3 separate regions of the Homo sapiens genome follow, and all the other regions are reported to be linked to region 2. Evidence: microRNA targets listed by miRTarBase, many of them from high-throughput screens and not tested one by one. Region 2 holds a microRNA gene; each other region holds the end of a gene's coding sequence. Distances are between the middles of the regions.
What was found. Region 2 holds the annotated microRNA hsa-miR-4735-5p (CCUAAUUUGAACACCUUCGGUA, at 2,938-2,959, shown strand). A microRNA usually pairs through its seed, bases 2 to 8, with sites in the 3' UTR of a target mRNA and lowers its output. Matches are read on the target gene's strand: a 7mer-m8 pairs with bases 2 to 8, a 7mer-A1 pairs with bases 2 to 7 and ends in A, and an 8mer does both.

Region 1: miRTarBase lists DBT as a target of hsa-miR-4735-5p. Seed matches in the 3' UTR shown: 7mer-m8 at 3,990-3,996, 7mer-m8 at 3,854-3,860, 7mer-m8 at 2,904-2,910, 7mer-m8 at 2,665-2,671 and 7mer-A1 at 352-358.
Region 3: miRTarBase lists SRRM4 as a target of hsa-miR-4735-5p. Seed matches in the 3' UTR shown: 7mer-m8 at 1,303-1,309.

Annotation. Positions count from the first base shown.
Region 1 is chr1:100,191,975-100,197,043 of GRCh38, forward strand. It overlaps DBT (dihydrolipoamide branched chain transacylase E2), which reads right to left. Exons shown (of 11, transcript NM_001918.5): 11 at 1-4,448. The coding sequence ends at 4,281. It also overlaps the pseudogene RPL23AP90. Among named protein-coding and RNA genes, the nearest start is that of LRRC39, 16 kb to the left of the region's middle.
Region 2 is chr1:196,580,337-196,585,411 of GRCh38, reverse strand. MIR4735 (microRNA 4735) reads left to right here and starts at 2,931; the gene lies at 2,931-2,999. The region is part of intron 1 of KCNT2 (potassium sodium-activated channel subfamily T member 2); the gene reads left to right.
Region 3 is chr12:119,156,115-119,161,183 of GRCh38, reverse strand. SRRM4 (serine/arginine repetitive matrix 4) reads right to left here. Exons shown (of 13, transcript NM_194286.4): 13 at 1-4,689. The coding sequence ends at 4,386. Among named protein-coding and RNA genes, the nearest start is that of HSPB8, 20 kb to the left of the region's middle.

The DNA.
Region 1 (5,069 bases), 96 Mb from region 2:
TTTTTTGGTTTTTTTGGTAGAGCTGGGGTCGCCCAGGCTGGTCTCAAACTCTGGACTCAAGAGGCCCACCCATTTAGGCCTCCCAAAGTGCTGGGATTATAGGCATGAGCCACTGTGTCCGGCCTCTCTTGGTGATTTTGACTGGAAATGATGTGGGTTCACACACATGATCCAATCTCAAGAAAAGACAGTGTAGAGGGAAGGGGGTAAAACCACCATTAAGAACTGATTGGGAATATAGCTCAACTCTAAAAGCACTGCTCTTCTCTAGGTTATTGGCACAGACCCACTTCCAGTGATAGCTTTAATTATTGGCTAAAGCTTTTGCTGTGAGGGCAAAAACTTCATCTATCTAATTCACCTTTATCCATAATCTCTACCCTAGAGCCTGGAACTGAATATACAGTTAATAAATAAGTGCAGAATGAACTAACTAATCACTTACAGCCTGAATTTTACAAATGCCTTTGAAGACTTCATGGAAACATTTGTATTCTTGGTACTGTAGGGCAGTGCTGAGCCCTGTCATTTCTTTCTTAAACCATAGTTTACTTAGAAATCAGCAAGGAAATCCATCAAGTGATTTTGGGGATCCACTTTGAGTGGGAAGCCATGAGAAATGCCCAAACAAGCCAGTGGGCTTTCCAGACTAAGAGCTATCACTTTCACTCTTTCTACATAATCACTTCTTACATAGGTTTCAACATAAGGTACATTTTGATCTCTAAAATATAAATTCATACCAATTTTAGCTTCCATCCTCAGACTTCCTTTCCTGTTGTACTTCCTTTTCAAATATCAGAGGAATGCTCAAAATAATGAAAAGAGCCTTGATTTTCTTGCTGACCACTCGCAGCAATAATTTTGGCTTCTCCCCCATGTACATATACCTTCTAATCTCCAGACATGTTAGTAAAGGACTTGAATTTTCTGGCTTTTCCACTTTAATTCCAACCTCTAGGAGTACAGCAAGAGCCTTTTCCTCCTCCCAAACACCCATCCCTTGCTTTGTAGAGCCTCATGGACCAGCACTGCCACTAAGGCTGCGCTCCTGCCCCTTTGGCCCTCTTCAGGGAATCCTGCTATCCTAAGGGCCGTGCACACTGTAGGGAACAAATCCTTTGCTGAATTCTCAATGCATGAGACCAAAGAGAAGATAGTAATACCCAAGGGTTGGAATAGAACCAGATAACTTAAGGGTTATTTGGGAATAGAGTATCTTGAGCCATTGATGCTGGACCTACATACTTACTTATTTCAGAACTCCCTTCTCCTGGTTTTTCTATTCTTTAAGTGAGGAGGACATTTTTATTGATCATGTCATTATTCATTTAAAACTCAATAAATGCCTATCAATAGATAATTGGTTAAATTATGGGACATCCATCTTCTGATCCTTCCAGATAAGATCGGTAACCTTTACTGGATGGCTCATAGCATCTGGGTTATTACCTACCAAGAACAGTGTTTTATGCAGTTATTTAATATCTGTCTCCTTACTAGACTGTAAGCCCAATCAAGGAAGCATGAAGGTGGCTACTGTATGCTTAGAACCATGATTGGTATGGTAGATGTTTAATGTTTGAATGTATAATAAATGCATACAATGGAATACTATGCAGACATTTATTTATTTATTTATTTATTTAGAGACAGAGTCTCGCTCTATCACCAGGCTGGAGTGCAGTGGCTCAATCTTGGCTCACTGCAACCTCTGCCGCTGGGTTCAAGCAGTTCTCCTGCCTCAGCCTCCCGAGTAGGTGGACTACAGGCGCCTGCCACCGTGCCTGGCTGATTTTTGTATTTTCAATAGAGATGAGGTTTCACCATATTGGCCAGGCTGGTCTCGAACTCCTGACCTTGTGATCTACCTGCCTTGGCCTCCCAAAGTGGTAGGATTACAGGCGTGAGCCACCACACCCAGCCTATGCAGCCATTTAAAGCATGACAATGTGGAATTGTTTATTGACATGTAAGGTTACCCATAATATAATGTTAAATTTTAAAAATCAAATAATAAAATAGTAGATATGCTATGATCATGTTTTAACAAAAAAGAATAGCCATACATACAGATAGATACATCAAAATGTTAATAGTGGTAAGATTATGAATGACTTTTTCTTTTATTGGTTAACTCTTTGTATTATCTGAAATTTTACAACAACAGCATTTATTTGACCTGTTTTTTTTATTTTATTTTATTTTTTAGAGACCAGGTCTCACTCTGTCACCCATACTGGAGGATAGTGGCACAATGACAGCTCACTACAGCTTTGAACTCCTGGGCTCAATTGATCCTCTTGTCTCAGCTTCCTGAGTAGCTGGGACTATAGGTGCACACCACCACACTTGGCTTTTTGGTTTTTTTTTTTTTTTCTGAGACAAAGTGTTGCTCTGCCACCCAGGCTGGAGTGCAGTGGTGTGATCTCTGCTCACTGTAACCTCCACCTCTTGGGCTCAAGCAATTCTCCTGCCTCAGCCTCCCAAGTAGCTGGGACTACAGGCGTGTGCCACCAGGCCCAGGTAATTTTTTGTATTTTTACAAAACTGTAGAGATGGGGTTTCACCATGTTGGCCAGGGTGGTCTCGAACTCCTGACCTCAGGTGATCTGGCCACCTCGGCCTCCCAAAGTGCTGGGATTACAGGCGTGAGCCACCAGGCTAATTTTAAAAATAATGTTTTTTGAGATGGGATCTCACTATGTTGCCCAGGCTGGTCTCAAACTCCTGGCCTCAAGTGATCCTCCTGCTTCAGCCTCCCCTATAACTGGGATTACAGTTACAAGTCATCACACCTGGCTGATTTATTCTTTCCTGATTTTAAAATTATTTCCATTTTGAGAAAAACCAAGTAGATATTAAAACAACCTTTTTTCTGTCACAAAACTTCACTTAAACAACTAATTTTGGCATACAGTTTTCAACTGGACAATATTAGAAACAACATGGATTTCCGAATGCAAATTGAAATGTTGGATACATTCATCTCGTTGCTATTTCTGATTAAAGTAGACCTTTAACAAAATGATCATTATGAAACCTTCATTTCTATACAAAATTTCTTATTTTTTATATCCATAATTACTATTAGACTCTTCCTTCTCCTCTTATTTACATTCTTACCCAGGATATGGAGAATGGAATAGACCTTAATTTCTTATCCTATTTTTTAGCTGAAGACCAAAAAAGTTAAAAGGAAGTAGACTTCTCAAATTTTTTTTAAAAAAAGAAATGTCAGTGGCTGCTACATTTAAAGTACCTTCCTTACATGAGGGAAGTTTGCAAAGGTGAAGGTCTTCCCCAAGAAAATACCAAAGCATTACCACAAATCTAAAACTATATCCATTTTAAACAAACACCTTTAATAGACTGGTTATAAAACTATAATTGGACAATTTTAAGGCCAGTTTATACTTTTCCCTTTTCAAAGACATTAATTAATATAAATAAGACACTATCAGATGATATTCTCTATACAGAGCAAGAATATACTCTTGGATATCTCAAAAGAGAAGTATAATTGCACTTATTTCATACAACAATTAGCATAATAACGGAAATGGAAAATATTTTTGTATATAAATTCCATTTCTTAATTAAGTAAAATTAAAGTTTCATTAAGAGTCAGTTAAAAAAAATAGGGCATATACTGTCTGTATATGGCTACCTGTCTTTTAGTAACATGAATTTTGTTTTTTTGTTTTTGAGATGGCGTCTTGCTCTGTCGCCCAGGCTGGAGTGCAATAGCACGATCTCAGCTCACTGCAACCTCCACCTCCCAGGTTCAAGCGATTCTCCTGCCTCAGCCTCCCAAGTAGCTGGGATTATAGGTACCCACCACCACACCCGGCTAATTTTTGTATTTTTAGTAGAGGCCAGGTTTCACCATGTTGGCCAGGCTGGTCTCAAACTTCTAACCTCAGGTGATCCGCCCACCTGGGCCTCCCAAAGTGCTGGGATTACAGGCGTGAGCCACCATGCCCGGCCTAATTTTGTTAATCTTGCCAGTTTCAAGCCATTGACACAAAAACATCAGCACCATATTAAGAAGTCACACTCTGACCTATAAAATGTGACAGCCCCAGGAGAACCATTACACCATTATTCATTTTCAGTAAAAAGTCTAATAGAACAGTGACAAATATTGTGCCTTAGATCCTTAATCATACGATACAAATCATTTACAATATAAATTGTAAAGATGAACATGTGCTGGCACAGCTAGGGTTTACATACTCTTTGGAAGCTCAAAAAGTTCAAGAATGTCTTATCAGTCTTCATTTCAGATCTAGTAGCATAAAAGCTGGGTTTTCTAAATAGGATTTCCACAAATTGGAGAAGCGTGACATTGTAGCACCATCAATAACTCTGTGATCAGCTGACCAGCTCACATTCATTATCTGTGCCTTATATACTTCTCCTTTCTGGTTAAATCGGGGAATGGCCTAGAAATGAAAAAAAAAAAAAAAAAAAAAAAAAAAAGAACAAAGAGTAAACCTTCACTTGTTCAGAGCTCAAGCTCTAACAATGGTGTAAGATCAGGCAAACCCTTCTTCCTGTACAGTACAGAAAAAAATGGGCATCCCCAATGACTTTTGAAAATGCTGATTCCTACTCTTCCCATCTTTGAGTATATGCCTGGAGCTTACAGAAGTTCTCCAAGGTACTTCCTATCCCTTGTACAATTCCCATACCTACATTCATTAACTTTCATCTCAGATTTCAAATATTTAATAATTATTTACTGTATACCCACTATGTGCCAAGTATTCTTCTAGGCTCTGGGGAGAGACAGACAATTAAATAAGGCTTCCTCACTGAAGGCAGTGAGGAAACAAGCCATTATCAAGTTCCCCTGACCACTGAGTTGGCCAGGAAGAAGACAGGACAACAACATGCTTGTGTTCTTTGTGGATATTAAAGCTAGTAAGCACCACATCAAACAGGCTGGAAGCTCTATGACACTGATGCGGCCAAGGTCAACACCTTGATCAGGCCCGGAGAGAGGAAGGCATATATTCCATTAGCTCCTGATTACAATGCTTTGGATATTGCCAACAAAATTG
Region 2 (5,075 bases):
AAAACCTTTAGAGGAAACGTTTCTTTTCCTCTCTTCACAGTTTATTTACTCACTACCAGTTACTTGATGTGTAAGTCAAGTCCCATCCTCTCTTTGAAGAGATAATTTGTGTAAAGTGTTTGACACAGAACAGGATTGCATAGTATCTTAAGGTTATAGCTAGTTTTTAATTTTCTGATCTTCCTTTTGCCTCTTCCTCACTACTGAGCTTTCTTCCTAGTCTCAGTTTTTGCGCTTATTATTTCATTTTTATAACTACTCCCTTGAGTTGTCATTTTTTAAATATCTGCAGTTTCTCCAACTAGACTCCAAGTCTCTTCTACATCGTATTGTACTCATACTTGAAAATAATAAATGCTTGGCAAATACTGAATGATAAGCCTCTTCTGCCTGTGAATGGTCCTTGTTCTGAGCAGAACACATGTGTGCTGACTCTTTTTCATGGGACCCACGCCTACTGGAAGCACCCTCTCCATTCGGAGTTCATCTTTGCAAACCCCACCCCCAAACAAACAAACAAAATGTTTTGTTTGGAACCCTGGGCAAAGTCTCCTGAATATTAGACTGGGTGATAAATCATGAATCATATTTGTACTTGGGTAAAATTTAACCCAAATTCCATTTGGAATCTTCAAGCTAATTAACTTCCTCCTGAGTCCCAAGGTTCTTTTTCTAGCAAAGCTTATATATTTACTATTAAAATAAAATCTGATATAAAAGTTGACAGGAATTTTCTCTTGACAACATTATTTCTAGTTACTACAATGTTTGACAATATACTTTTCTGAAAATATGTTCATTCATCTGTACTCTTTCTGTCTCATCCTCATACTCTGTTGATTTAATGGTCCAGGCATGCCCCTCTCTGCTAATCTTTTCTTCTAAGCCTCTTGGAATACGTGCACCCTTACAAATAAATTTTCCAGCACCTTCAGTTTTTTCAAGGAGAGTTCATCCATTTGTTAATTTGAATAGGAAACAAACTGTAACATTAGAATCTTTTTAATAAAAGCTGCTCATTTTCATACTGCTCCCCATATATCACAGGTTTGGAAATGTGTTACCCCTCTTCTTACAAATTATACACCATTACATTTCCCCTTATTTGAGGCGTATGTTATTTATTACAGCCTTTGCTTTTTTCTTGTCACTGTGTTTTGTCAACCTTTGGTGATTCCTCCACAATTATGGAGGGTTTGGGCGGGAGCTTCTATTCTTTTTATTTTATTTTATTTTATTTTATCTTAATTCCAGATGCTAGTATCATTGTTTTCGCATTCTTTGCCCAGGTAATACCCTGTTCCAGACCCTGCCTTTATAGTTCCTTTAGTTTGGTGACTTTTATATCCAATTCTGCCTGGCACCCTCTTGTTAGGCTGGACCTGAGTATGACCAAGATTGCTCTACTTCTGGAAACTTACGTGGCAACATCCCACCATGTAACTCTAACTTGTCCTTTCAGTGTTCACACTTCCTTACTAACACCAAACTGATTCATTTTTACATATCATCAAGACCTTCAGTACCCTATATATTTCCATGCTTTCCACCCATTTTTAACCTGAACTTTTCTTTCCTGGCTCTTATTTACTCTTCTATCTTGTGCATTCTTTCTTCTGCCCTATGGCTCTACTTACGTTTCTCTTAAAATTTCTGATGATCTTTTTCATGCCAGGTCCAATGAACAATTTTTTTTTTCTGATTCTCCTCCTCTTTCTTGAAACTTCCTTCTCTTGATTTCTATGATATCATTCTTCTTTGTTTTATGTCCTACTCATCTTATCCTAGTTCTCCTTTACAGTCTTCCCTTCTTTTATTTAGCACTAAAAATTATGTTTTATCAAGGATTCTTCCTTGGTTCTTTGCTCTTTTCATTTCTAGTTTGCTTTGTTTAAACTTCAATAAATGTAATTATATGTTGATGATTTCCAAATCATGATATTTGTCTTACTTCTCTGTGCAGAGCTCTAAAACTATATAGACTGCTTTCCACTGGGTGTCTTTTCATGTTCAGCAGACATTTCAATCCACAGTGTCCAAAATTAATTTTGTCATCTCTTTGAAACTATTTACCCTCTGGTATTTTTTGTGTTTAAATATGGTACCAACATGCAACCAGCCACCCAAGGCTGGATTATTAAATTCTTTTTAAAGCTTGGTTCACTACAGATCTCATTGATTCAATTCATAGATGGCTCAAATTGTTGTCCTCATGAGTCCATTTTAATTATTACGCTTCTAATTAATGTGCCTGCCTTTCTCATCTGAACTCTTGAGAGGTGTTTTAATTTTTCTGCCTCAGGTCTTCCTTCTGGCTGCCATTGGACAATTCCTCTCTCTGGAATGAATAACAACCTCTGAAGACATCCCACTCCACCTCTACATGTCACATGATATTCACCTATTTTTTGACCAGTTATCACTTACATAATCTTTATCTCAGCATTTTAGGAAGGCTTTTTCGCTATGCAAATCTCTGTATTTTATAATCCTGTATAATTATATTTTATAATCCTGTATAATTATATTTTATAATCCTATGCAATCTGTATTATCTTCTGTATTTTATGCTTTTCAAACCTTTATTGTACTCTATTTGTTCTACTTTATTTAGTTTGGACAAGCTGAAGCAGGTGACATGGTTCATCTGTATCCTTGCCTGATGCATCACTGAAATGTAAATGAATTGGTGGTGAGAGAATAATTCAAAGGACTCAGTGTTTGAACCAAGCCTAGTCAATGCTGTCAATGCTGCTGTATCTTGGGTGTTTGTGGAGGCACTAAGGTAGTGGCCAGGACTGAAGAAATTGGGAACTTGACCTTATAAGGCAGCTACAAAACTTGCCCTCTATCATTCTAACCAACCCTTCCAAACTTCTAAAAATCTCAGCTCCACTTCTGCAAGTTTATCTTCCCTGCTTGCATAAAATTGCAGTGCCTAATTTGAACACCTTCGGTATTCATCAAAAATACCAAAGGTGCTCAAATTAGACATTGCATTTTTTGCGCATGTCAAGTTGAAATCTATTCATGGATCTTTAGCTCCTTAAGAGAACATGCATATAACATTACTTTTTACTAGCATTCTTCCAAGTACTTTACATGCCCAACGAGAAAGCATAATATTATCCCCATTGTACAGCTGAAGAAACAGGCATAGAGAAGTTAAGTAATCCGTTGGTGATTACAAAGCTAGAAAATGGCAGAGCCAGGAACTTGAACCCTGTTTTTCTTGGCCATTAGGCTTGCTGGAAGGGGATACTAAGATGTAGGAAGGGAAGGTGGAGATGAGGGTCTTTGTTGATTTTCCTAAAAAAGTTGGCGTTGTACTGGCATATGGAGAGAAGTTGATAAGTAAATATTAAATACATACATGTTGGTTTTGAAATATATGATAAGACTTTTTAAAGTCTACCTGAAGAACTGGCAGTATTATTGGTTCTCCCACAGAATTTTCTTATGAAAGACATAATTTTCCTGAAATGTGAACATAGAGGCATTTGTGATGCCTATTATCCAGCTGTCATCTGTCTATTCATGTTGTACACATCTACTATAATTTAAATAGGAGAACAACAAAATGAAAGACTTAGTTTTCAAAACATAAGTAATGGAAGAAAGTGAATTTGATATATTTTTATGACAGCTTTTAGTAAATACTTTTAAAATGAACTGAAGTTAATTTATGCTTGAGTGGGATTTCTTTCTCTTTTTGGAAAGTTTTTATAAATAAATGAAAGAAAATATGTTCTTACTAATAACAGTTTCCCCTCCATCTTTCCCCCATCTCCTTAGGATACTTGTGGAATGTCTCTAGAGTGAGTCGGCCACTGAGAGGACTTTGTATTGTGTTAACTTCATTATATTGAAATTTTGGAATAGCCTCAGGGAATAAGGGACAGAAAAAAATGGGGCAATATTCACCCGGTGGCATTCATTTTCAGTAAAGAGCAAGTAAAACCCTTTATTAAATTTAATGTTTTATTTTTGCTTAGTTTGGAATATACATGTGTATTTCACATATATAAAAATAGAACTTTTTTTACTAAACTGGTCCAGATCTAGATATTTATAGGCATATGGAATTTGGAGGTTACAAAATTAACTTCTAAGAATAAATATTTCCTACTCCTCAAGTATCATGTAAGAATAATTTTTCTATGACAATAAAAAAAGCGAAACACTACAATCTGACCCATATTTTCTTGCCACAGATTAGCATTTATGTGATCTTATTCTAAGCCTATGTGGTACAGAAAGGTAAAAATGCTAAAAGAATGACTATATCACATATATACTAATATTTCAATGTTTAATTTTCTGAAAAAAAAACTGTACGTTTTGTAAATAGCTGTAGCAGCTATAGTCAAGATGATTTCTTGAGAAGAAATTACCTGTTCTTTAAAAAATGTTCTTGCCAAAATAATGATTGTACATAGCTCAAAAATCAGCTATTATTAGAAGGCTTACAAGAAAACAAGAACAAGTAAAACAACAATAACAAAAACCATCTGGCCCCTGCCTTCACCTTGTCAGCTTTTCCATGATGTACTTTTCAGAAAGAAACACTTTGAAGCCTTTTGAGTGTTTTTCCCTGCTTTTATTCTCTATAGTCAGTTTCACAGTTTCTCAATTTGAGGGAGTATTCATTGACTTCCTACTATGAAATATAAGGATTTAGCAGTCTAACTATACCATCACAACACACATCTCACTCCCCATTCTTCCAATACAGTAATTATTTTTGTTTAGAGCAATACCATGTATGCATATTATATGACTATTTCAGTTTTGCTCAGAACTGAGTAATGAGTATTATGATTATCATTTTCTTATTCAACTGTCTTTGTTTCTAAGTATATACACATTTTCATTTTGTTGTCTGCTAAGTTTTCTAGTTACCTATTGATAGTGTTTCACCAAGCACTGTGGTAGAACTATAAAGCCTTTCTCAGGGTAATCAAACACATCAGACAGTGTACCTGTGGGGAAGGTCCAGGTTATGCTGTGGAAAGAAACACTCTCAGATCCTCCGTGGTTCTCTTCTGTGGAGTTACTCAGGAACTCCCTCCCCT
Region 3 (5,069 bases), not on the chromosome of region 2:
AAAAAGAAGAGGGGAAAAGAAAACAGCAGAAGAAAAGATGAAAGTTGGACTGGAGAAGGAAAACAATGTGCTTTCTTTGCCTTTGAGAGCACCCTGAATTTTGGCCTCTCCAAGCAGACCCTTTTGCAAAAGAGGATGGGTCTGAGCAAATGAAGTGATGCGGTTCTCTGAGACTGAGACCTTTGTTCTAACATCTTAATTTTATTCTGCTTCTGAAAGATCAGCTGTCCTTCAAAGAAGGGAAGGAATGCAGATAGGAATATGATCAAACCTCAGTGAACCAGAATGTTACTAATAGGGGGCTTTGAGTTACTTAGCCTTGCCTAATTAACTGAAGGGAGATCAAATCTTGCTTTTCGTTTTTACTTTCATGATGGACAACCTCCTAAAAATGTTTGAGGCTCTTTTCCTTTTCCCTCTGAGTCTCAGTGAAGCTCCCTCTGTCTTTGGTGACACTCTCAGGCCTCAGGCCAACATTTTGAATTTTTATCTCACAAATCCCTCCACTTAACAGAGGTCGAACTTTGCCCTAGGGAAAGGGAGCAATGTATTCAGTTTCTGTCATCCAGTGCACTTCCATAGCGGGAAGGTCAAAGGCTTGGGATGCATGGCGCTTGACCTCAAGCCACATCTCCCTCCCATTTTGGATGTTGGTTTTTGAGATAAATCCTCACGACGAGCAGCATCCTGGTGATCTGTCATATTCCTTGGAAGCAGAAGGTAATGAGGGTGAAATGGGCGTAGGAACAGCGATACTGGGAATGGGAGGTTCTGGTTAATCAGGGTTACCAGTGCCTCAACAAGCACATTGTTTTTGGATAGAAAAAAAGGAAATGTAAAAGAAAGTAGAGAAATACACTGAGAGAGAGAGAGAGAGAGAGAGAGAGAGAGAGACAGAGAGAGAGACAGAGAGAGAGACAGAGAGAGAGAGAGGCAGAGATTTCCCCGAAGCAGGCATTTAAGCAGCCTTCTTGTAAACTTCACCCAGGAAAGGGGCACTCCCTTGCTTTGGGTTAGGGCTGGATAGTCACATTGCCAGGGAAACAACCAGGGATGTTGCAAAAGTCTCACCAAACCCAAAGCTGGACCAGACAAGCTGGCAATTGCAAGGCAGTGGACAGTGACTTTGGAAAGGGCAAGAGCTGTCTCCGGCCAGCAGCCAGAAGACACTGCCAGTTGGTCAGATAAGCAGGACTGATGACCTTTGGATCCTGGGCCCTTCCAGGATGGGTTTGGAAATGACCTTCTTGGTGGGGTCCTGTGGAACATCTGGCTGCTCCTTCCACCTTTTTTTTTTTTTTCCTAATTTCAGAAATAGCTTTGTGCTTTCCCCTGATGAAACAGCAAGAGATCATAGATAAAAGCTTTTGCTTTTGGCTTGGTGGTTCTCAAGCAAGATGGCTGATGCCTCTTCCCAAGGTAGCCTTCAGATCTCAGGGGACAGAGAGAAATTAGGTACTGTGGAGTGGAAGCATGTGTAACATACATGAAACCAACTAGGTGTGCTCAGAGAAGCTAGGGAGTGATCCTGCTATGTGCCTTGGAGTGAGGGTGAGATCAAGGTGCATCTTCCCTCAGTCAGCTCAATTCCTGCCTCCATTCTCATGGTGTGAGCACCTTGTCAACCCCAAGTGCAATTCCAGTACTAAACCAGACATCATTTTCATCCACCATGGCCCTCAAAATACAAGGCAACTACTTCAGCAAGTACTCAACTGAAGCCTCATCACTCTGTTAGGAGATAGCACATCTGTCTCCAATCTGGTGCCTCCCTAAGGGACATTCACAAGGGATTTCGACTTTGTGCAGCCTTGGCCCCATTTGCCAACTTTCGACTCCAACCCCCACCTAAGTTGCAACTCCACTGTGTCAATTCATCACTGTAGCTCATAAGCCTCTGGGCTGTTTACATCTTTTTGATACCCCTGTGAGGTTCCTGGGGGACAGGAGGCTGGGGTACAGGCCTGACCCTCCTGGACGCTGGGTTAAGTGATGAATTTTGGGACTGATGTGCCTCCTTCTGGGCCAACCCCAGGGTGTTCCAGGCTTAGAGCCTTCAGGGAGAAGGCCAATAGCCCACTCACCTTTGGCCTCTCAAATCCCATCCATAAAAAACAGCAGAAAAAAAAAGGAGATGCACAGAAATAATTTAGGAGATCCCCCCAACACACACACACACACACACACACACACACACACACACACACACACACACAAAACCTCTGTATAAATAAATAATTCAATACTGCTAATGGCGAGAAAGAGAGACAGTCATCAAATAAATAAATAGATAAATAAATAAAATAAATAAAAAGGTTTGCTAGGAGCCCCAGGCAAAATGGTCCCCTAGAGTTGTCTTGATGAAGGCAGTCCGAACGTGAGGTTCTGATGCCTCTCACAGCTGTCCTGCTAAGAAGGTTTTTGGTGGCTCTGGGAAGCCTTTGTCTCCATGGAGGGAGACTGAAGTCCAGTCTGGGTTCCTGGGCAGGGACGAGGGTTATTTACAGTGGCTGTACTTGCCCTCCCCGGGGCACCTGCCCCTGTCCCAGGCACCTGCCATCTGGCCTTCTGCAGTGACAGCACTGGCATCCATTAGTCTTTGTGGGCAGGGCTTAGGTCTGGGCCAGAGGCCCGGTATGGGGAGGCTGGGTCGTCCACTGCTGCCCGGGGCCCTCACTCCTGTCTTCTGATGGAGGAAGGGCTGTCGTGGTGGTGGTTGCATGGCAGTCTCTAGCCCCATGGGTTGATAGGATGGGAAAGATTGGGTAGGGAGACGTCACTGCTTCCAAGAAAAAGGACTATTTTCCAAATGTTTTCCCTGGGGTGGGAGGGATAAAGAATGTTTGGCCCTTGCTTCCCCATAACCCAAAATATCCAAAAGCTGGGACCGGTCCTCTCTCCCTCGCTCCCTCCGTGCCCTGTCCTGCTGCTGTTGCCACCACAAACTTGAAACTCACCCACAAGCCTCCGGAAAGCCAGTCAGCTGGTGAGGGGGATGCCCAAGAGTTTATTTTAAGGATCTTATTCCTCACCTCCCCGTTCTTAGCGCCTTCTGTGGATGAAGCAGCTGGTGGTATTTGTGGATCGGAGATCAGCTTACCCTCTCTGCCCAGCCCCAGCCAGGGGGGACTTGGGGTGAGGGCAAAAATAAAGGTGGGTCTTTCCCAAGCTGACAAGAAACCTCAGAAGCCAGCAGGAGCCCAAGACATGGCATATCCAAGCCCCTCTCCCCTGCACTCTGGATTCGGGTCTTTTCCCCCAAACCTGAGCTGCTGTGCCCCATCCTGGCAAAATTCCTGAGAGGCAAGGGGAGTGGCTTAAGCTGAAGGGTGGGTGGGTAGGTGCCAGGCTGCACTGGGTGGCATCCAGGGCGTGGCAGCCTGGGCAGAGGGGAGGGGGCTGGCAGGCGCCAACCGGAGGGTAAGGCCAGACTGGCTGGCGCTGGGGCCTGGCAACTGGCCATGGCACTGGGGAATGTTCAGCAGATGGTCCCGTGGAATTAAGTTGGTGCCAGCTAGTGGGGCTGAGGCATATTTGGGAAGTGGGGCTGGAGACCAACCTGTCCTGACTCTTCCACTATCTCCTTTCTCGTGAGGTTGCAGGGCCCCTGTGAATGGCCAAGAGGTGTTTTGTGTCAGCCATGCAGTGGCCTCTTCACAGCTGGGATCTGCTGGGCTCTGTCCCCTTACCATGCTGAGGTATTGGGAGCAGCAGCTGAACCCTTCCGTTTTTCTATCTATCATCTTAACCAACTCCTATCTCCTGACACCTCCCACCAAGTCAAACGTCCCCATCTGGTATTCAAGGATATCCCTTCTTCTAGGACCCAAATGTCTTCCAGCCTTTGCTTGGGCCTGTTTGAGGAAGTTAAAGGCCTGACCCCGTTATCTTGAACCTGAACTGCCATTGGTCTCCTCTTTCACCCCTCTCAGACATGGGGGTCCATCCACGTGCAGCCATGAAGTTGGACTAGTGGGGCATCCGGGGAGGTGGGGAGAATTACCACGGGCCTCCTGTGAGCAGTGGAGGAGAAGAACTGTCTCCACATTTTCCTGGCCAGGGCTCAATTTTTGAGTCACAGACCCATTGCTTCTCACAAAACCTTGAAGTTTTCTTTTCTTTCTTCTTTTTTTGTGCCACAAGATGATGGTTCTTTCCATATGCCCAGGCCTGAGCTGGGCCCCAGGATGATGCTGGTAGAGGCTCCTAGCAGGCTGATCTAGAGAGTGAAGCCCCCTTACCCTCTTCTCCTCTTCCCCTAGGCAAGCAGGAAGGACAAGGTATAGGAGCCCTCACTATTTGTCACCAAGAAGGCGGGGAGGGCAGGTGGTTGGGGGAGGCTGGCAGCGCGAAGGGGCCCCCACGGGCAGCTGGCTCAGGGGCACTTAGCGCCTCGTGCTGGAGTAGCTGTCTGCTGAGCTGTAGCTCCGGCTCTGGCTCCTGCTCCGGCTCCGGCTCCGGCTCCTGCTCCGGCTCCGGCTGCGGGAGCCCGGACTAGGGCTGCGGGAGCTAGAGCTGCTGCTCGTGCGGGTCCGGCTCCGTCTCCGGCTCCGGCTCCGACTCCGGCTCCGGGAGTAGCTGCGGCTGGCCGAGCGGCTACTGCTGCTGCTGTACCAGGAGGAGGTGCTGCTGAGGCTGCCGGATGAGGAGGGGCTGGGCCGATAGTAGGGGATGGGGCGTTTCCGGGCACTGCAGAGACCAGAGAGAGGAGGGATGAGGGCCGGCCCCTCCGTGCCTCCCCGCAGCGAGCCCCAGTCTTGTCCCAAGGGAAACCAATATCCTCCCTTTCCCCAGTCCCTTAGGAAAAAATACTCCCTTTCCACTTCTCTTGCAGTGCTGAGAACACATCAAAGTAAAAGTCTCAGCTTAGTGCTAGTATGTCTTGAAAAATGATTATCTCACTTTTTTCTTTCCCCCATGAAGCAAGCCTGGAGCTCAGAGCCTTCAGCTTGCAACAGAATCTACATCTAAACTTTAATCATAGTTTTGTTTTCCTATTTTTACTTTTACTAGAACCATCTATTTATGGCAAAAGAGGCTAATTTTCCATTTACTGTACTGTATCGTTT